Linked DNA regions of Homo sapiens: region 1 is linked to region 2. The links come from fine-mapping of genetic effects on plasma protein levels. A gene starts in region 2. The other region holds a variant in brackets. All regions are shown on one strand. Distances are between the middles of the regions.

Evidence for each region. PIP is the posterior inclusion probability: the model's chance that the variant is causal. Protein levels are from antibody-based Olink assays in UK Biobank. Linkage for the fine-mapping came from a reference panel and not from the study's own genotypes, which makes the PIPs less certain.
Region 1: its variant is fine-mapped to the plasma level of the PZP protein (UK Biobank, PIP above 0.99). The variant lies in the coding sequence of PZP. If it changes the protein, the assay may bind it differently, which can mimic a change of level.

Annotation. Positions count from the first base shown.
Region 1 is chr12:9,163,878-9,175,320 of GRCh38, reverse strand. It overlaps PZP (PZP alpha-2-macroglobulin like), which reads left to right. Exons shown (of 36, transcript NM_002864.3): 16 at 5,730-5,891; 17 at 6,347-6,452; 18 at 9,119-9,269; 19 at 9,954-10,182; 20 at 11,062-11,188. It also overlaps a transcript of KLRG1 not described here. Among named protein-coding and RNA genes, the nearest start is that of PZP, 39 kb to the left of the region's middle. RefSeq lists an enhancer at 4,709-5,220. The variant C/T (reference allele first, on the strand shown) is at 6,383.
Region 2 is chr12:9,201,897-9,213,339 of GRCh38, reverse strand. PZP (PZP alpha-2-macroglobulin like) reads left to right here and starts at 4,945. Exons shown (of 36, transcript NM_002864.3): 1 at 4,945-5,081; 2 at 9,389-9,572; 3 at 10,656-10,815; 4 at 10,969-11,021. The coding sequence starts at 4,999. It also overlaps a transcript of KLRG1 not described here.

The DNA.
Region 1 (11,443 bases), 38 kb after region 2:
TTCATCTTGAGTTAATTTTTGTATATGGTGAAAGGAAGGGGTCCAGTTTCAATTTTCTGCATAAGGCTAGCCAGCATTCCCAGCACCATTTACTAAATAGGGAGGCCTTTCCTCCATTGCTTGTTTTTGTCAAGTTTGTCAAAGATCAGATGGTTGTAGGTTTGCGGTTTTATCTCTGAGTTCTCTATTCTGTACCATTGGTCTATGTGTCTGTTCTTTATCAGTACCATGCTGTTTTGGTTACTGTAACCTTGTAGTAAAGTTTGAAGTCAGGTAACATGATGCCTCCAGCTTTGTTCTTCTTGCTTAGAATTGTCTTGGCAATTCAGGCTCTTTTTTGGTTCCATATGAATTTTAAAATAGATTTTTCTAATTCTGTGAAGAATGTCAATGGTAGTTTAATGGGAATAGCACTGAATCTATAAAATACTTTGGGCAGTATGGCCATTGTCATTACACTGATTCTTCTTATGCGTGAGGATGGAATGTTTCTCCATTTGTTTGTGTCCTCTATGATATCCTTGAGCAGTGGTTTGTAGTTCTCCTTGAAGAGGTCCTTCACTTCCCTTGTTAGCTGTATTCCTAGGTATTTTATTCTTTCTGTAGCAATTGTGAATGGGAGTTCATTCATGATTTGGATCTCTGCTTGCCTGTTGTTGGTGTATAGAAATGCCTGTGATTTTTGCACATTGATTTTGTATCCTGAGATTTTGCTGAAGTTGCTTATCAGCTTAAGAATCTTTTGGACTGAGATAATGGGGTTTTCTAGATATAAAATCAAATAAAGATAATTTGACTTTCTCTCTTCCTATTCGAATACACTTTATTTATTTCTCTTGCCTGATTGCCCTGGCCAGAAATTCCAATACTATGTTGAATGGGAGTGGTGAGAGAGGGCTTCCCTGTCTTGTGCCAGTTTTCAAGGGGAATGCTCCCAGCTTTTTCCCATTCAGTATGATATTGGCTGTGTGTTTGTCATATATGGCTCTTATGAGGTATGTTCCTTCAATACCTAGTTTATTGAGAGTTTTTAACATAAAGGGATGTTGAATTTTATCAAAGGCCTTTTCTGCACCTATTGAGATAACCATGTGGTTTTTGTCTTTAGTTCTGTTTATGTAATGAATCGCACTTATTGATTTGTGTATGTTGAGCCAAGCTTGCATCCCAGGGATGAAGCCTACTTGGTTGTGGTGGATAAGCTTTTTGACGTGCTGCTGGATTTGGTTTGCAAGTATTTTGTTGAGGATTTTTGCATCGATGTTCATCAGGGATATTCGCCTGAAGCTTTCTTTTTTTGTTGTGACTCTGCCAGGTTTTGGTATCAAGATGATGGTGGCCTCATAGAATGAGTTAGCGAGGAGTCCCTCCTTTTCAATTTTTGGAATAGTTTTAGTAGAAATGGTACCAGCTCTTCTTTGTACCTATGGTAGAATTCAGCTGTGCATCCATCTGGTCCTGGGCTTTTTTTGGTTGGTAGATTATTTATTACTGCCTCAATTTCAGAACTCGTTATTGGTCTATTCAAATATTCAGTTTCTTCCTGGTTCAGTCTTGGGAGGGTGTATGTGTCCAGTAGTTTATCCATTTCTTCTAGATTTTCTAGCTTATATAGACAGAGGTGTTTATAGTATTTGCGGATGGTTGTTTGCGTTTCTGTGAGGTCAGTGGTGATATTCCCCTATCATTTCTGATTGTGTCTACTTGATTCTTTTCTTTTTTTCTTCTTTATTAGTCTAGCTAGCAGTCTATCTATTTTATTAACTTTTTTTCAAAAAAACCAGCTCCTGGATTCATTGTTTTTTTAAGAGGGTTTTTCATGTCTCTATCTCCTTCAGCTCAGCTTTGATCTTTGCTATTTCTTGTCTTCTGCTAGCTTTGGGGTTTGTATGCTCTTGGTTCTACAGTCCTTTTAGTTGAGATGTTAGGTTGTTGATTTGATATCTTTCTAGCTTTTAGATGCAGGCACTTAGTGCTATAAATTTCCCACTTAACACTGTTTTAGCTGCATCCCAGAGATTGCAGTACATTGTCTCTTTGTTCTCATTAGTTTCAAATAACTTCTTGATTTCTGCCTTAATTTCATTGTTTACCCAAGAGTCATTCAGGAGCAGTTTATTCAATTTCCATATAGTTGTGTGGTTTTGAGTGAATTTCTTAATCTTGAGTTCTAAGTTGATTGCACTGTCGTCTGAAAGACTGTTATGATTTCAGTTCTTGTGCATTTGCTGAGGAGTGTTTTACTTCCAATTATGTGTCCAATTTTAGAGTAAATGCCATGTGGCAATGAGAAGAATGTATATTCTGTTGAATTTTGGTGGAGAGTTCTGTAGATATCAATCAGGTCCACTTGATCCAGAGTTGAGTTCAGGTCCTAAATATCTTTGTTAATTTTCTGTCTTAATCATCTGTCTAATATTGTCAGTGGTGTGTTAAAGTCTCTCGCTATTATTGTGTGGGAGTCTAAGTCTCTTTGTAGGTATATAAGAACTTGCTTTATGAATCTGGGTGCTTCTGTATTGGATGCATATATATTTAGGATAGTTAGCTCTTCTGGTTGAATTGAATCCTTTACTATTATATACTACCCTTCTTTGTTTGTTTGATCTTTGTTGGTTTAAAGTCTGTTTTGTCAGAAACTAGGATTGCTTTTTTCTGTTTTCCATTTGCTTGGTAAATTTTCCTCCATCCCTTTATTTTGAGCCTGTGTCTGTCCTTGCGTGTGAGATGAGTCTCTTGAAGATAGCATACTGATGATGGGTCTTGGCTCTTTATTCAGCTTGCCATTCTGTGTCTTTTAACTAGAGCATTTAGCCCATTTACATTTAAGGTTAGTATTTTTATGGGTGAATTAGATCCTGTCATCATGATGCTTTTTTGCAGACTTGTTTATGTGATTGCTTCATAGTGTTCTGGCCTGTGTACTTCAGTGTGTTTTTGTAGTGGCTGGTAATGGTCTTTCTTTTCCAAACGTAGTGCTTTCTTCAGGAGCTCTTGCAAGGCAGGCCTTGTGTTGATAAATTTCCTAACCATTCACTTGTTTGAAAAGAATCTTATTTCTCCTTTGCTTTTGAAGCTTAGTTTGGCCAGGTATAAAATTCTGGGTTGGAAATTATTTTCTTTTAGAATGTTGAATATTGGCCCCCAATTTCTTCTGGCTTCCATGGTTTTGGCAGAGAGGTCCACTGTTAGTATGATATGTTTCCTTTTGTAGGTGACTTGGCCTTTCTCTCTAGGTGTCCTTAACATGGTTTCTTTCATTTTGGCATTGGAGAATCTGATGATTTTGTGTCTTTGGGTTGATGTTCTTGTGGAGTATCTTACTGGCCTTCTCTGCATTTCCTGAATTTGAATGTTGGCCTGTCTTGCTAGGTTGGGGAAGTTCTCCTGGATGATATCCTGAAGTATGTTTTCCAACTTGGTTCCATTCTCCCTGTCTCTTTCAAGGATCCCAATCAGTCATAGGTTTGGTCTTTTTACATAATCCCATATTTCTCAGAGGTTTTGTTCATTTCTTTTCATTCTTTCTTCTCTATTCTAGTCTGCCTGTCTTATTTCAGATAGATAATCTTCAGGCTCTGAGATTCTTTCCTCCTCTTGGTCTATCCTGCTACTGATACTTGTGATTGCATTGTGAAGTTCTTGAGATGCGGTTTTCAGCTCCATCAGGTCAGTTATGTTCCTCTCTAAACTGGCTATTCTGGCTACCAGCTCCTGTATTGTTTTATCATGATTCTCAGCTTCTTTTCATTGGGTTACAGCTCAGCAAAGTTTATTGTTATCCACTTTCTGAAGTCTACTTCTGTCAATTCTTAGCCTCAGCCCGGTTCTGTGCCCTTGCTGGTGAGGTGTCACAGTCATCTGGAAGAGAAGAGACACTCTGGCATTTTGAGTTTTCGTTGTTTTTGAATTAATTCTTTCTCATCTTTGTGAACTTATCTACCTTTAATCCTTGAGGCTGCTGCCCTTTGAATTAGATTTGTGTTAGGTCTTTTTTGTTGATGCTGTTGTTTTCTGTTTGTTTGTTTGTTTTTCTTTTAGCAGTCAAGCCACTCTATCATAGGGCTGCTGAGGTTTGCTGGGGGTCCACTCCAGACCCCAGTTGCTTTGGTTTCTCCCGTACGTGGAAGTATCACCAGCAAAGGCCATGAAACAGCAAAGATGGCAGCCTGTGCCTTCCTCTAGAAACTCCATCCTGTGGGGGTACTAACTTGTTGCCAGCCCACATGCAACTGTTGGAGGTGGCTGGAGACCCTCATTGGGAGGTCTCGCCCAGTCAGGAGGAATGGGATCAGGGACCTTCTCAAAGAAGCAGCCTGGCTGCTTTTTGGTAGAGCAGGTGGGCTGCATTGGGTGGGATCCTTCCTCACCTGGATCACCTGTATTCTCCAAAGCCAGCAGGTTGGAGTGGCAGAGTCAACCAAACTGCAGAGATGGCAGACACCCCTGCCCCCCAGGAGCTCGGTCCCAGGGAGAGATCAAAGCTCTGTCTTTAGAACCCTGGCTGGAGTACCTGAAGCCCCCACAGAAAGGTCCCACTCGATGAGGAGGAATGGATCAGGGTCCCACTTAAAGAAGCAGTCTGATCACAATCTGGCAAGGCAGCTGTGCTGCATCGTGGGGGACCGTTCCTCATCCAGACCATCTGTATTCCCCAAGCCTTCAGGCTGGAGTGGCTGAGTCCTCAGAACCACAGAGATGGCACCCACCTCTCCCTGCAGGAACTCAGGTCCATCTCAGGTGGACTCCAACCCACTGCCGTCGGCTGGCTGAGATTCCAAGACAGTGAGTCTTAACCTGTGAGGTGCTGTGGAAGTGGGGTCCACAGGATGATGCTCTTTGGCTCTCTGAATTTAGCCCCCTTCCTAGGGATATATACAAACAGATTTCCTGCCTTTCCAGGGATCCCAGGGCCGGATTATGTAAAACTCCAGGGTTTCTGTGTGCCTGAGCAGCTGCTCTGCCAAGACTCCACATAGCTTTGTGTATCAGACCCAAGACCCTGGTGGCATGGGCTCACAAGGGTATCTCCTGATCCATGGGTTGCAGAGATCCTTGGGAGAAATGTGATTTCCCAGGCGAGGTCGCACAATCACTCACCGCTTCCCTTGGCTGGGGGTGGGGGTTCCTTCCGTTGCCCTCCCCCACCTCCGCCCCTGCTGCTTTTCATTGTTCTCTGTGGCTCAAGTTGCTTGCCTAGTCAGTCTCAATGTGAGAACCTGGGTATTTCAGTTGAAGGTGCTGCATTTAATAAGCTTTTTCATTCCACTCCGTAAGTGCTGCAGACCGCAGCTGCTTCTAATGGGCCATCTATACGATTTTCTGTCTGAGAATAAGCCTGAGTAGACATAGATGTTTAACAGGTGGCAATAATAATATGTAGCTAAATTCCTCAGGGCATTATGTATTAATTAAACACAGATGCAAGTTACGTCTTCTTTCTATATTTGGTCTATTTTTACCTCTAGACTCTACAATGAAGTTTTAATTAATCCTTCATAACTTAAGATTTTGTTAATCTTTGGAAGCATTTTCCCAAGTAGGTTTCATTTCTTTATAACAAAACAACACTGTTAAATATAAGGAAAATCTTCAACTATCTCTAAGGTACCAACTACATGAACGTACTCAAGAAAAGATTGGTGATAATTATTTTATTTCTCTCAGTTCATTCTATTTCAAAAGAAAAGTAAGTAACAGTTCTGCCTTTGATCCCCCCACTGCTACAGGTATATAATCTGCTAACTGTGAAGGATCTCACCAATTTTCCTGACAATGTGGACCAGCAGGAGGAAGAACAAGGACACTGTCCCCGTCCTTTCTTCATTCATAATGGAGCCATCTATGTTCCCTTATCAAGTAATGAAGCAGATATTTATAGCTTCCTCAAGGTAAAATTCTCACTACTTATTAACATGCTGGCTTGTGAGTTTTTGAATGTTAATAAAACTCTGTATCTATTCATAATCTTAGTAATTATGTAGCCTTGCCTCTCCATTTTTCAGCAGACAAAAATGAAGCCAATAAAAAGGTTAAAGTCTCTTGTGAGGATCACACAAAAGCTCAGTATGTGAGTCAGGGCTAGATCTAACCTCTGCCTATTCATCTGGATACTTTTTAGTTATATTTAGGTTTTTTTATTTGCAAACCAAAAAATAATGAATAAAGAATAAAATCTTAATAATCCATAAGTTTAGTAATTTCACTACTCTATATTTACTGTCAAGTGTTTCGCCATAGAATTAATATAAGGATACTGGAATTACATAGAGAAGTCTCTAAGGATAATATGTTTTATATATTCTAATCAAGCTTACAAGTAGATTGAACAATTATTTTTTTCCAGGGGATGGGATTGAAGGTGTTCACTAACTCAAAAATC[C/T]GAAAACCAAAGTCGTGTTCAGTCATCCCTTCCGTGTCTGCAGGAGCAGTAGGTCAAGGATACTATGGAGGTAAAACAGCAATTTGCTTTTAATTTTATTTCATGTCCAACAATATTACTATGCCCAAAATGCTAAAATGAGGTAATGTAGCCCTATTTCCACTTTATACACACAAAGAAACCAAGATTCAAATTAATTGTTTCTTGCTGAGGTGACTTAGCTGGTGATAGCTAGAACTGATCAGAGATTTTTTTTTAGATACATCCGATACTTCAGGGCACAAAATCAGATAAAATACAAGATTCTGATGTACTGTAAGAGAGGGAAAATGCTGACAATGGAAAGAAAGAGTAATTCTGATTATGGAAACAGGAAAGACATTCATAGGGATGCTGTATTTTAAAAAACATAAAGAAGGACAAAGGGCTTCACTGGTGACAAGAAACAACGTGAACATCACAGAAATATCTCATAATCCATGGCCAAAACCACTATTCAAATACAGCAGCCTTTTTCAACACCCTTGAACTTATTAAAACATCTGTCCCATCACCAGGTCTACTTACACTTGAACACTACCCAGCCATTTGTCATCCCTCTCTCATGAATCCAACTCCCTTTTTCTCCAAAATATCCCTGACATCCATCTGCTCACAAATATTTATATGCTCGGATTGGAAATCAGATATCCTATATGTGAAGTGGGTGTGTCATATCTCCTCTCTAAGCCTCAAATCCTTCATTAATAAATTGAAGGAATTTGACTAATGGCTCTTCAAGACCTTGCAAAACGCCCAATAAGATAACTAAATATAATGCACCAACACAAATTAAGAACTTTGATTGTTTAAATAGCATTTTCTATGTTCCTTGGCATTTAAGATTAATATCCATCTTTAAATGAGCTTTATTATTAAGAAAATGACACCTTTTAAAGGGCCATGGACTGTTTAAGTATACCTTCAATGATAGCACAAATTTCAAACAATTTCTCAAAAATGGTAAATATGATTTTGTCTTGTAACTGAGATGTTATATAAATAACGAGAATAAAGAATAAGGGAAAGGAAAATAGCCATGAGATTTACATAGAACAAACTTCAAGTTTAAACCATTGAGGTTTGGGGGGAAGGAAATGTTCTTGAATTTATTAAATTCAAGATGGAAAATTGACGGCATATAATAACACTCAGGAAAAAAAGAGCTTCTAAAATGTGTGATGAATACATAACAGGGATTGAAATTAGTAGCTATAAATGAATCAGGTATATGAGGAAATAAAAGAGCTAAGAAAACTGAAATATCTTGTGAAATTTCTTGATAAGAACTTCAACAACATGAAGCCATTTCCATGACTACAGAGAACAATGAAAAGCAGCAGGGGTGGAGGTGGGGGAGGGCAACGGAAGGAACCCCCACCCCCAGCCAAGGGAAGCGGTGAGTGATTGTGCGACCTCGCCTGGGAAATCACATTTCTCCCAAGGATCTCTGCAACCCATGGATCAGGAGATACCCTTGTGAGCCCATGCCACCAGGGTCTTGGGTCTGATACACAAAGCTTTGATGCAGAGACTATGAAAGGACACGTGGAAAGTCAAGTTGACAGTAAGAGTAGGAAGGATATAGCCATGGTCCACTAAATGGAGTTGAAATAACACATAATGCCATGGTTTGTTAACTGCAATAACTGGAGGAGTTGGAGGGCCCTTGACATATCCAGTAGAAAATGGAAAATAGTTCATTTAGGTGCATCATCCTTTTAGATATTTCAATATTTAAGATAAGAGTGAAGACAGAGAAGACAAAACAGTGAGAAATCAGAGTCAGAGATAGAAATTGTTACCACTTGGAAGGACATGGGGCAAGGTGTATGATATTCACTAAAGAAATTACTACTGATGCTTTCTTCAGTGGAGAAAACTGTTAGGGTGAAATTGCTAGAAATATATTTTTCCTTGTAAGTATTCTTTCACAAGGTATTTCTGAAATATCAGATGGGATACATGGAGGGAGATCTTAAATCAAATTCAATTAGTAAGCATGATTTCAGGCACAACGTGGACAAAATTGCTTTCATGTCTAGCTCTCCACCCTCTCACGTTGGTAAATGATTTCTTTGTCTGAACCACACAGCCATTCCAAATGGAAATATCTGTTTTTGACAACTGAATTGTTTATTTCAGATGTCAAAAAATAAGTGGAATAAAATCTAATGCTCTAATCTTATTTCCCAGAGAACAACAGTTTTGCAAAGTTCCATACAGTGATTTAAAGTAAATTTAATTTATGTAAAAGTAATTTAATGTAAATCATTAAATTCTGTTCACTCCACTGGTAATTTCATTTTTAGTATAGCAACCACTCTCAATGTCTAAAGAGCATTTTACAATTCCTGCTCAGTTTCTCTAAGAATGAAGCAATACTGTCTCAATTTCAAAATTGGTCCTTCGCCACAAAACCCATAAAACTGTCTCCAAGTGATCTCGTTTTTCCAGCTTCCATTCACATCAAATTATGCTATGTCTAGGATACATAGAATTTCCACCTTTGACAAAGACTCCTCTCTTTTCAGGGAATGAGGGATCACAAAGTATTTCCCAAGTTCTACAACTTCTACAAGACTTTTAGGACAGTCTGAGCAGGAAAACTGAAAATTTTGTTCTCTAACGTCTCACATGTGCACCATGAAATTAATGAATGTTTTTCCCTAACTAGACAATTTTCTCTTACTTTAGCAGGTCTAGGAGTAGTAGAGAGACCATATGTTCCTCAATTAGGCACATATAATGTGATACCCTTAAATAATGAACAAAGTTCAGGGCCAGTCCCTGAAACGGTGCGAAGCTATTTTCCTGAGACTTGGATCTGGGAGTTGGTGGCAGTGAAGTAAGTAACTTTACTTTCCTCCATTTGCTGGAGGGGAGGGAATGTGGTTCCTCCAACATTTTCAATTCTAAGACAATCTTCCTGAAAAGTTCTGAATAATTATCTTAACCTCTTCCTCTTTAGGATAGACCTAAGTAAAATGCGCAATTGCATAGGCTCATTAATACAATTGTCTCAGTGCTGAGCAATTCTAAAATAATTATTTCTGATACTGTCAAATAGTAGACATGAGAACTATAAATATTCAGTTCTATATATACTGCTTAATGTCGTTCAGGGAGCCTTCTGTAAATATCAGGGCTGGAGCAGGCACATAAACAAATCAGGCTACATTAATCCAGTGGTCTAATTGTTGGTCATGATTCTTAAAAATGCTTATTTATGGGATTATACAATAGCAAGGGAAGTTAAGGACTAAAATGAATCGCAATTCAAATATTTTTATTCAAAGTACAGACATGTGGGATATGATCATTTGTTGATAAGGGGGAGAGGTACCATTCAGTGGCTTTCATTTTCCCAACTCAGATCCCAGGACATAATCTAGTGTTCACACGAATGCACACTCGCATATACCCTTAAGTGGATTCAGTTCTTGACGTTAGCTTTATGCATATTAATTCTCACTTGAGAAAAGGTGGCTTACATTCATTATTTCTGTTCTTCACTTGCCCTCCTCCCCAGCTCATCAGGTGTGGCTGAGGTAGGAGTAACAGTCCCTGACACCATCACCGAGTGGAAGGCAGGGGCCTTCTGCCTGTCCGAAGATGCTGGACTTGGTATCTCTTCCACTGCCTCTCTCCGAGCCTTCCAGCCCTTCTTTGTGGAGCTCACAATGCCTTACTCTGTGATTCGTGGAGAGGTCTTCACACTCAAGGCCACGGTCCTAAACTACCTTCCCAAATGCATCCGGGTAAGGAAAATGAGGGTGAACAGGAAAGGTGGGTAGAACAAAAGATTCCTTTGATCAGTCAGCTACTGATTCTGTTCCTGAGACTAAGGATAATTCAAGGGATTGTGTGTTAGCACTGTGAATAATTAGTGCTATGCAAAGCAGGACATGATCAGAAAGATAATACAATGATATATGTGCTATGGGTGCTTAAATCACGGCTCTCTAAGCCACACCTTGCTTTTCTATTTCTTAGCGCTTGCAGAATTCTTTGCTGCAAGTTAGGTTATATGCCAGGAACATTCTTGAAGCTGACACACAACTCAGCTTTCTCAGTTCCACGAGAGTCATTCTCCAACCCGTCATCTTGAAATCTCCAAAATATATAATTTTAATTTATCTTATAGCACTTATCTCTTTGTAAATTATGTAATAGTGGTTGTATATAGATCATCTTTCTTGTGACACAATATCCTCAAGATCGGGAGCCTCTCATCTACCATTCCCAGTGTTTTATGTCTTGTATGGATTAGACATGTAATATATGTTGTAAGAAATAGGAGAAGAAAGGAAGGAAGAAACTATGAAAATCTACATAGCAGCAGATAGTATTCCCTAGGGCAATATACAATCACTGCTTTTCCCTTTCCTCTGCCACTGCCAAGCCTGCACGTCCACAAGCTACCCTAAGGCAAATGCCAAATCCTCCTAATACACAACCAATCTTGATTTGTATCATTGCCATTGCCATGCTTCTTAAAGCATGGATGAATCTATGTGACATACATTTTTCTTACAAATCCCAATTTACTGCAGCATCTCACACTTGGCCCCAATTCTATGTGTTCGTGTCGTTCCATATTCTGATCATTTCTGTCTCTGCCTCACATGGGGTGATAGGTCAGTGTGCAGCTGAAAGCCTCTCCAGCCTTCCTAGCTTCCCAAAATACAAAGGGAGAAGAATCCTATTGTATCTGTGGAAATGAGAGACAAACCTTGTCTTGGACAGTGACTCCTAAAACTCTGGGTGAGTGACAGTACCCAAAAGGGCCTATCAATCAACAAGGACGGTGGCTGTCTGAGTACTTTTTTCATCATATTCTCTCTTTTATTTGCCATAGATATAATTCTATAAAGTTAGTTTTTTTTCCTATTTCTATCCACTATGACCTCCTCCCACTGTTCTCACCCAAGCTAGTCCCCAGAATCACTATCTTGGACATTGGCTACTTAGTATACATTAACCTTGTGGGTTTCTTTTTTTTTAGCCTTATTTTCTATT
Region 2 (11,443 bases):
ATATATTCCCCCAAAAAATGAAATCATATGCTCATGCAAACACTTGTATACAAATATTTATAGCAGAATTATTCACAATAGCTAATAAATGAGAATAACTCAAATGTCTATCAACTGAGGAATGGATAAACAAAATGTGGTATGTCCATACATTGGAATATTGTTCAATATCGTTCACTCATGTAAAGGAATGAAGTACTATATATATGCTACAACATGGAAGAACTTTGAAAACATCACGCTATGTGAAAGAAGCCACACAACATAGGCCACATATATTATGATTCTATTAATATGAAATGTCCAAATAGGTAAATTCATAAAAATATAAAGTAGATTAGTGTTTGCAGAGAATGCACGAATTAGTATTTCTACTTGTTGAAAATAGGAAGTGACTACTAACATGTATGTAGTTTCTTTTGGGGGTGATGGAAATGTTCCATAATTTCATAGTGGTAATAATTACATAACACCATGAGCATACTAACAGCCACTGAATTGTACACTGTAATGTAATAAATGTTATGTAATGGGAATTTGTGTCCATTTAAAAATTGTAAAAAATAGCCAACTATGGAAAAAATTTACTGGTTTTTTTTTTCAGATTCAATGTTATAAATGAAGGAAATAATTTCCTTTCCTGCAAACTTTATTGCACATTCATTCAGATTTTCTCTTTCACTGTCCCATTTCACATTCTGGAAAAATCAGATATTTTAAGACAAAACTACTCTTTTCCTCATTTGGAAAACATTTGTCCTATTATCTTGCATAGACAGTTATGTTTTTTGTCACTACTGTTTCTACCATGGCCTCAACTATACATATTAGTTATAACATTTAATGAAAGAAAATAACTAACATAAAAAAACTAGAAAAGATGATTGGCTACTTTCTTTCTTATACAGTGAATCCTAAAATGGCCTTGAAATCTGGTACCAGCTCCTCTATGATGCAGTCTAAGAGCAGTCTTGCCCTCACAGGGACCTAATGGGAGAAATGCTCACAAGTGCCCTGGTAGGCTGAACTTGGTCCCACTGTGGATCTTAAAACAGCACTGTATACTGGCTCCAGGCCCTCTCATCTGTGATTTGAGAGCAGGCCTGCCCACTCAGGGACCCAGTGGGACACATGCCCATTCATGAACCCAGAGGCAGGCCTGAAGACCTGGGTCTCAGCTGTAGGCCCTGAGGCAGCCCTGTTACTTGGTTCTCTTTTCTCTCAGCTGCAATCTGGACCAGCACTGTCTGCCTAGGAACCTACCCAGTGACCCAGTAGGAGCCCTCCTAAGGACCCAGAGGAAGCCACATTCATCCACATATCTCGTAACTAGCCTACAATCTGTGGACTCTAAAGTAGACCCTCATCCCAGTGCCAGACCTACTGACCAAGGTCTAGGAGGCAGTCCAATTTACCCAGGGAACAGACAGAATCTAAGCCTACTAGAGCCCCAGTTAACAGGCCTGCCAACCACAGACCTCACTGTTGACCCAGCAAAACCATGTGACCTGGCTCTACCTCCAGTTGACCACAATTCTGGAAGCAATCTTGTCAATCCTGGGAACCCAACAGGAGGATCCTGAGGATCTTTACCTGTAAAACCAGTCTATAAAGATGGGAAAAGGTGTTTGCTCCTTCAGATGCATAGAAACCAATGCAAAGTTACACAGATAATGATGAACCAGGCAAACATAATACCACCAAAGGAAACCAATGAAGTTCCAGTAACTAATCTCCACCCCAAATGGAGATCTACAAATTTCCCCCCAAAATTCAAAATAATCATCTTAAAGATGCTCAGTAAGATGCAAGAAAACACAGATAGACAACTAAATAAAATTAGAAAAACAATGTATGAACAAAATGAGAAGTTTAATAAAGAAATAGAAACCATTAAGAAAAAACACACAAAAATTATATAAGAACAGAACTGAATATTTTAATGGAGAGCTTCAACAGCAAACACAGTCACACAAAAGAAAGAATTAGTAACTTGAAGACAGGTCATGTAAATAGTTAATTAAAGGTGAAAAAAGAAAAAAAATTAAAGAAGAGTGAAGAAAGTATAAGGGACCTATGGAATACCATCAAGCATGCAAATACACATATTATGGGAGTCCTAGAAGGAGAAAAGAGGGAAATGAGCAGAAAGCTTATTTAAAGGAATACTGGAAGAAAAATGTAAAAGCTAGAGTATTGGTGGCAATATGGGGATACGAAAATCCTCATGCACTACTGGTAGAATTGTGGTGTGATGCAACCATTCTGGAGAGTTATTTGTCACTATTTAGTCACTTAAGTACATGCCTCTCATACAACAATCTCACTCCTGTGTATGCGTCTTGCAAGAGGATTTACCTGTCTCAAAGGGTATATGTAAAAAGATATTTATCAAAGCATTATTTCCTCATGGCAGGACAATAGAGACAATCCTGTTTTTATCATTAGGAGAGTGGAAACATTAAACCTCTTGGATGATCACCAAAGAGGGCTATACTGTAATAAAATGCAATTAATAAAATACATACATATAAACATATAAACATGGGAGGATGTTTTAAAACTAGCAATAACTAAAAAGAATAAGAAACAGGCAAGGTCTTTTTCCAATACTCTTTATATAAAATAAAAATACACACTTAAGACTTTCCTTTCCAGTAATGGTATACAAGGTAATTGAGACCAAACTTCCCACTTAAATTAGGAATGGTTGGTTATATATATATTCACTGGAGGTATTGAAAAGCAAAGACTGTGAAGAATTATGAATCCAAAGTTCAGAAGCAACATAGCAACCCAAAGGGGCAATTCTGTGTTTAAGGGCACTTTCCCCTTAGGGTATTTAACAGCTCCAGAATATTTGGCTGAGAGATTTAGAAGCACATTTTAAAGCCTTTAGTAAATAAAATTGCAGCGTCTAGAGTCCAAGGCTCATGAAACTGGGGCAAGGAGATGTTCCTGATAGACCCTTTACATATTGTGTTGAGATATCAAACTGATGGTAGAATTCAAATGGTCCATAAACATATGAAAAGATGTGTAAAGTCATTAATAATGAAAATTAAGGCAAGATACTGCTTCACTCATCAGATTGATAAAAAGTAAAATGCCTAGCAGAGTAAAACGATGGTAAATATATAATAAACTGAAAATATCCACTGTTGCAGATGGGTATTCAAATCCATGTAATACTCTGAAGAGCAATTTACCAATCTGATAGATTTCAAGATGTACATACATATATAGCCTATAACCCAATCTCTGCTATATACCCTAGAGAAAGTCTTGCAAATATGCTTAAGTAGACATACCGTATTTGTAGCAGTATTATTTGTAATGTTGAAAACTATGAAGAATCCAAAATTCAGCACTAGGGGAATAGAGTAACAGGTTCGGCCACATTCATACAATAGAATGTCGTATAGATGGTCATTAAAATTAATAAATTTTATCCTCATTATCAATGCTAATAAGTCTTAAAACCATAATAGTGATGACATATTTTACAATATGTGCATACCACTTATACATATAAAATACAAAACACAAAATTATGCTATATATTATTTACATAAATATGGATTAAAAACATAAACACATCTTGAAGAATACATATCAACTTCCTAATCCCACAACATTGGAAGGGAAATGAGATTGGAGAGAATTACAAAGGAAACTCCAACCATATTTGTCTTGATTTATTTCTTTTTTTGGGTTGGTGGATCTGGTAAAAACTGGAAAAGCTTCTAGACAAATTTTAAAAGAGCACTACCATTGCCATCTTTCATTTCTTAAGAAGAAATGACCTTAAACAAACTTGGCAAGTGTTTAATTTTATTAAAGTTGGGTGCATGTAAGGTACGAGTGTCTTTTATCTTGCTCTCTATATTTGTGAGTATATATATATATAACATTTCATAATTTAAAAGAAATTATTTCATTCTATGATAATGTGACAAAAGAAACAAAGATGTGAAATAAAAACTAATAGGAAGGAATCCACTTTCAGCAGTGTGGCCAGGAATTTGCTCTCCAAAGAAGGGATGATTAGGCTGAAATATGGAGAAAGAGAAAGAAAGTTGATTTAAAAAGTTTCAAGCAATACAGTATGTAAACAGACACCAATGTCTGCAGTCTAAGGATGGCATTAAATCTGCTGGTGGTTTATATGTGATCATCATTGTACTACAAGTTCTATGAGAGCATGGATACTGAATATCCTGTTCAATATTGTATTTTCATCACCAGAATAGCACTTAGCACACAGTATGGCTCAAAAAAAAAATCTCAGATAAAGTCAATGACATGGTTTAAGGGACTCAAACGTTAGAGTGCTCAGACAGTAACAAGGACAGATAGGATCAACTAAGAATCTGATCAGGTCAATGCTGTGAAATAGACAAGTGTGATCTTTGATAACTCCTTTCTAAAATCTCTTTGATCTTTTATCTCTTTTATCTTTCATTGATCCTCTACTCTTGAAATCCTTATTTTATATCACTTTCTTCCAGGACCATGTACTCAATCAACTGCTAAAAAAGAAAACCCAAAAACCCTAAAGTCTATAGTTATAACTCACTCAGTCCCAGAAATGAATCTGCAATGCATGAGCTACTATCATGGTAACATGTCCCTGACATTCTTTGTCAGCATCCTTTGTCACCTGCTTGTAAGGATTTTGAAAGAGATGGAGAAAGGTAGGTTGAAGGTTCCTTATCAGGAGGTTTGCTGTCAAAGCTCATTCTAAATGGAATACAAATTTTATCTTCCAGACATGCCTCAGTACCTATCAGAATTTAGCCTTGAGAAAAATGAGGCAACCACTGAGAGTAATGACCCTTTTAGGGAATCTGTGCTCAATTCTGAACTCTATTCAGAGGCCTTGGGGTGGGGCTTGTTTGTACATAGTGGCCACATAAAGCCTGGTAAACTCAGCTGGTCTCCAGGGCGAGGCTGAGGGCAGAGAGTTGGACACAACCCTGAGATTTATCCCTCACAATGCGGAAAGACAGACTTCTTCATTTATGTCTTGTGCTACTTCTTATCCTGCTTTCTGCCAGTGACTCAAACTCTACAGAACCGTAAGTCTCACTCAAGACCCCTTCCTCCAGAGTGCGTTTCAGTCTCTCCCTTGTGTCTTCGCTTTGCCTTCCTTTGTAAATGCCACCTTTCCACTCATTACAATACCTTCCAAATATAAGAAATTATTCCAGTTAATCCCTTGTTTGTCTTTCATTTATCCTCTATTCTTGAAATCATTTTTTCTACACTGGGCCAATCAGAGTCATAAATACGATTAGTCACTAGGAAGCATGATTAAATAAAACACTAGATCCCAACTTCACAGAACAGTTCTTTTGGATGGAAGGCACTGAATATAGAGATATTCGAAATATATAGTGAAGTGCAACTTAACATGTATTGTAGGCCATATATATATATACAGAAAGTATAGCTCCTTTATTTTTCAATCATGTATCAAGTCTTCACCAACAGCCCCCAGTGGGGGACCAAAGCAGGGAAAATAATTTTAACCCTATCCAGTTGTAAGTTGGTACAACTCAATAATTGTAAGACTTCTTTTCCACCTCTCCCCAGTTCCTCTCCTCTATAGTGTCTAGAGAACTGTGGTCTCCATTAACTCCTAATAGAGAAAACTGTCAGAGTCCTTGGTCTCAAAGTTCTCCGTCCTTCTTGGCTACTGTCAGTCTGACTTCTCCTTACTTGCTGGCATGCACTGTTGAAGTTTAGCCATCTGGTTTCTCTTGTGTGTTCAGGACCCAACAGTCCTCTCTAACTGACTGTCTCACTTCAGCTGTTTCATATCCCATAGAACTCCTACCTTTGCATCCTGCCTCAAATACTATGGCTATTGTTTCAACACAGCCTGTGATGCAGGGTCACCTTGCCCCTTTGCAGTCCAGGCCATTTAAGGTCCCTGGCCTTAACCCAGCTGCCTTTACATTTCTTCCAGAGAATGGTGAGAACTCTTGGGTCCAATAATAGCACATAGGCACTGAGGTGTCCTGGAGAGGTTAAACTTCTACCTCTCTCTTGCATACCCACACTGCACTTCTAGATGCCTATCGTGTCTCCTGTATTCCAGACTGATACAGGGAAGTCTTCAGAGTCCCAAATCGGGAAAGGGATAAGGGGTCCCTCTGCTCTGTGTGTTACCCTTATCCATCTAACACAAATAGCCTTCTTCAGGCCAAAGCGCAGAAAGCAGAAATAAGGAGTTCAATCCAGTAAGTCTCCTGCTTTCCTCAGGCTTTTTCCTTGCACAATTTCCTGGCAACCGGTAGGGGTACATTTCTCCCCCACTATCCCTCTACCTCATCTACAGCAGTGGGCTCTACTACTTCCAGCTGCTCTCCATCCAGAAAGCATATGGGAATATGTGGAGGCTATTTTGCTTTCTGAGAGCAGACTGAATGGATAAAGCGAGTAGCGTGTATTGGGTCAGAAACATTAAGCAATTTGTGGTTCTGGATGCATTCCTACACTACATTGGACCATGCTGCCATTGAAACCATCCTTTTACGTTGTGTCTGCCACTGAACAAAGAACAACAAGCCTCATGCCCTAGTTGTCACAAGCAGAAGGGGTGTTTTCTCCCTTTATAAGGAGAAAACTTAACTTCATCCCTCCAGAATTAACCCTTGATGTGATAAATGTGAGAGACTACAAAAGAGAACCAATAGCCATTCTCCCCTGCCTTGGGGCAGTAAGCTTCAGAAAGATGAAGGTTTCAGGGGAATAAAATGAAAAAGAGAAAATTAAAAGTTATCACTTTAATATTTGCTACATTTAGTCCCTGCTAAAGAGGCAAATATTTAAAATGCAAACATTCATGATTGAGTAAACATATATTAAAACATTTTAGCAGCTCACTACCAATGACATCTTGGGCAAGTTTGTCAACCTGGATTTGTTCTGATTTCAATATCTGTTAAAAAAATATTAACTGAACTCATATAAAATAGTTCTTTAGAATATCAAATATATGTGGAATTAATTTTTAATCGTGATATCTTTTAGGCTTATAATTTATAAGAATAAAAATAGTAAATAAATTATAAATATATATATACCTTCTTATTAAGATCAAAGAACTAAAGGAAAAATTTTTTGATGGGGATGTAAAAAATGATACATTTTTATTATTTATTATGCTGTTAAAAGAGCAGTGATCAGGAGATCAGAAGCATCCAGATACCAGAAAAAGATTAAGACATAAGAGACTAGCTGAATGACTATCAGTGAGTTACTGAACTGCCCTCAGCTTCTCTGCTAGAGAACAAAACCTTACTACTCATACAGTAAAATCATCTGAAACTTGGATGATTTCAGAGTGGCCCTGGAGATTCATGGCATATAGTTTTGCCCAGGAACACTTTAAAACACATGTAGCAAGACTGGTGTGCTGGAGCAGACTACATGGAGGATGAGGGGACCAAATTTGAGTTCCACATTCCACAACTCAATTATCCTTGGATTCTCTCCTCCTAGTCTCACACCTATTAATTTTGTAAAGCAACAATATTGGGTTTCTTGTGTCAAATTGCCTGTCCAGAAAACAATTTAAAAAGTAAGAGTTTATGTTGGCAATGGAAAGTAAGGGTAGTAAAATAATATAAGAAAATAATAGTTTTTACTTGCAAATTTACTCTATAAATGGCCTAACCCTGCAGATATTGAATCATGAATCACTGAATCATTAAAGCTTTGAAGAGTTACATTTTAGTCACAATTTACTGATTTTACTGATTTGGCATGGGGGCAGGGATTTTATCTATCTGTTATGGATTCAAGTTTTGGGGACTGATGAGGATCTCATGTTTTAGCTTCCATGAACATGGAGAGTATCATGCATGTACCTTACAGCATTGCTGGGAAGATTAAATGGCTTAATACAGAGACAGCTTAACAATTCTTGTCATGTGGCAGATGCTCAAAAACAGCAACAACAAAAACACATTCTCTTTCAGCCCATGGGATTTCAGAGTGTGGAGAGATTATATTGAATTGGAGGCTTCTGGAAAGTGACAGGAAAATATGGAGTGGGGGGCATTAGAGACAAAGGACACTCATCAATAAAGCTAAGGCCAGAATGTGAGGCTTACACAAAAAATTGCCTGTGCCTCTGAAAAACTGAAAACTTTCAACAATTTAAATAAAAAAGAAAAGACTTTTCAAAATAATATGACTTTTAGTACTCATATAAACTTTGTTTTGTTTTTTTTTGAAACAGGGTCTCACTCTGTCACTCTGAAAGCACTGGTGCAATCATAGCTCACTGTAGCCTCAACCTCGTGGGCTTAAGTGATCCTTCTTGCCTCAGCCTCCTGAGTAACTGCTACTACAGCCATGTGCCACCTGGCTAAATTTTTTATTTTAATTTTTGTAGAGATGGGGGACCTCACAATGTTGTGCAGGCTGTTCTCAAACTCCTGGCCTCAAGTGACTCTCCTGCCTCAGCCTCCCAAAGTGCCGGGAACTAGGTATAAGCCACTTCTCCCAGCCTGAACCTGTTTGTTTTTTTTTATTGAAAAGATAACCTATCCACCCATGTGATTCGAAACAAACATGTTTATAAACATGGACATACTAATATTAAATTATTAATGTTAATTGCCTCAAGAAATTGAGCATAAAGGGAAATGATAATAAAATACAGTGTGTGTTTGTGTAGTGTGTGTGTAGCAGGGAGTTGTGCATGTAAATAATTGACAAAATTTTCAAACTCGTTGATAAAATATTGACTTTGACTGAGCTGTATCTGAGGAGCCTAAGAGAAACAGCAAATACTTTTTTTCAGTGTTGCTGATATTAAGAAAATGATTTTGCAATATAGACATGTGTTATTTTGTGTAATGATATATGCTTACTGAAGTTCTTTCAGTTGAATTTCTGTAAATCTAGTCACGGTGTTCATTCCAAAGTGATGTTTATCTAGACAGATTTTAATGTAAGTCCTTTTTACAATGAATAATCACTCCCAATTTTTTATATATGTGTGTGTGTTTGTGTGCGTGCACTTTTATGGATATATATTCAAGAATTCAGATTCTTTTTAAAGGTCAAAGTTAAAGTTTAAAGAGCTCAGACTGCTCTTTACAGCAAGGAATGCCTGTGAAATTGTAACATCTTGGAAAGCAATCTCCAGTGTTGTATGGCTCCAGATTGTGTGGCTGAGGCATGGCTGATGAGTAAAAGATAAAATTTTTGTGCTGATCTGTGACAGAACCTCCATTGACTTAGTCCATTGACTTTTAGAATAAAACTGATTGCACCAATTAATACATATTGTTATGAAAACACATTTATGGATGAAAACGCTTACTATCATCAGTTTTTCTCTAATTTAGACTTCTTCCTTTCCCAGGCAGTATATGGTGCTGGTCCCCTCCCTGCTCCACACTGAGGCCCCTAAGAAGGGCTGTGTCCTTCTGAGCCACCTGAATGAGACAGTGACTGTAAGTGCTTCCTTGGAGTCTGGCAGGGAAAACAGGAGCCTCTTCACTGACCTGGTGGCGGAGAAGGACTTATTCCACTGTGTCTCCTTCACTGTGAGTGCTACGGTGCCAGCTGGCTATCCCTGCTTGATACATTTTATTGAGCTCTATAGGTCATGGTGATGGAGCTCTGGTGTGCGATCCCAAGGTATGACTTTAAGAATGTAGTTAGGACTTCAGGGGCCAGGTGCGGTGGCTCACGCCTGTAATCCCAGCACTTTGGGAAGCCAAGGCGGGCAGATCACGAGGTCAGGAGATCGAGACCATCCTGGCTAACAAGATGAAACCCCGTCTCTACCAAAAATACAAAAAATTAGCCGGGCGTAGTGGCAGGCGCCCGTAGTCCCAGCTACCTGGGAGGCTGAGGCAGGAGAATGGCGTGAACCCGGGAGGCGAAGTTTGCAGTGAGCCGAGATCGCCCCACTGCACTCCAGCCTGGGCGACAGAGCGAGACTCCGTCTCAAAAAAAAAAAAAAAAAAAAAAGGAATGTAGTTAGGACTTCAGAAAGGACTAAAAATAGTGAGTTTTCAACTATTAAGGAACAAAGCATTTTTTACCAGAGTAAGGAAGAAATACTCTTCTAAATTTCATTCCTAAATAATAATCCTATTGCCCACAAAAATTTCATGACTTAGAGGAGTTTTCTAGTTTTGATTGTAACTGTCTCTTTAAGGATCGGGCTGGACATTTCCTAGAAATAGATCATATGAAAATTTCATGATAAAAACTTTGCATGCAACATAATTTTTTGCACATGCAGGATACCCTAAGCAAACACCTAGTACCTCTTTAAAGTTGCCTAACTTGGGAAACTCAGCTCCTATGCTCTCCCATATTTTTTCAGAGATGTTTCTCTCCATTGCTTCAGAATATACATACTCAGTTAAAAGGCATCTAATTTAATAACTAGAGCTCTAGGTGAACTCCATGGAGATCTGGGTTCTATTGATGGCCACTCTTACTGATACCATTCCTCCATCTCACATTAATATCGTCACTCTTATGTCTGAAGAAATAGTCACACCTTCCTTCTCCTTGGTGAAGCTGAAGGAGAGATAGGAAATAGCAATGACTGAAGAATGCAGAGGGAGAAGACTGCACAGTTCCTCAGTAGTAAAAAATCCTTTGCTTTTTAGCTCCCAAGGATCTCAGCCTCTTCAGAGGTGGCATTCCTTAGCATCCAGATAAAGGGGCCTACGCAAGATTTCAGGAAGAGGAACACAGTTCTGGTACTGAACACCCAAAGTCTGGTCTTTGTCCAGACAGACAAACCCATGTATAAACCAGGACAGACAGGTAAGTAGGGAAATTCCACTGTTTGGGGCAACACTGAGAAGGGCCACCTGAACAGCCAAAGTCTCCATTATCCTAGCCCCGTAGCCTCCTGTCTTATTACCCAAATTACCTGCTTTATCATGTCTGAATCTTATCGGAGAACTACTTTTCCAGTAAGATTCCGTGTTGTCTCCGTGGATGAAAATTTTCGCCCTCGAAATGAACTGGTAAGCATCCACTATCTGTGGTTTGGGTTGTGGGTAGAGTGGGAATACTCACCCAGAGTGAGGTAGAAAGGTACAAGAAAAGCGAGAGGATGAAAGACACTTGTTTTTGAACTTGGCTCCAGCCTCAGCACAGATTTGCAGTCTTATACAAAACAAAAATTGAGGGACAAGAGATGAGGAAGTTCTTTCTCTTATAACAGTATTTAATCAGTCTGGCAATAGCTGCATTTGTTACTCTGAACACACTGCATTAAGAATATTAAAGAAGCATAGAAAAAAGGCACTATTCCTATTCATACTTTCAAGGAATTTATGATTAAAAAAGCAACACAGAATTATGCTTTTATGAATATATAGGTATATACAATAGACCATATTATAATTTTATTATATATTCGATACATATAGTATAGAAATATATT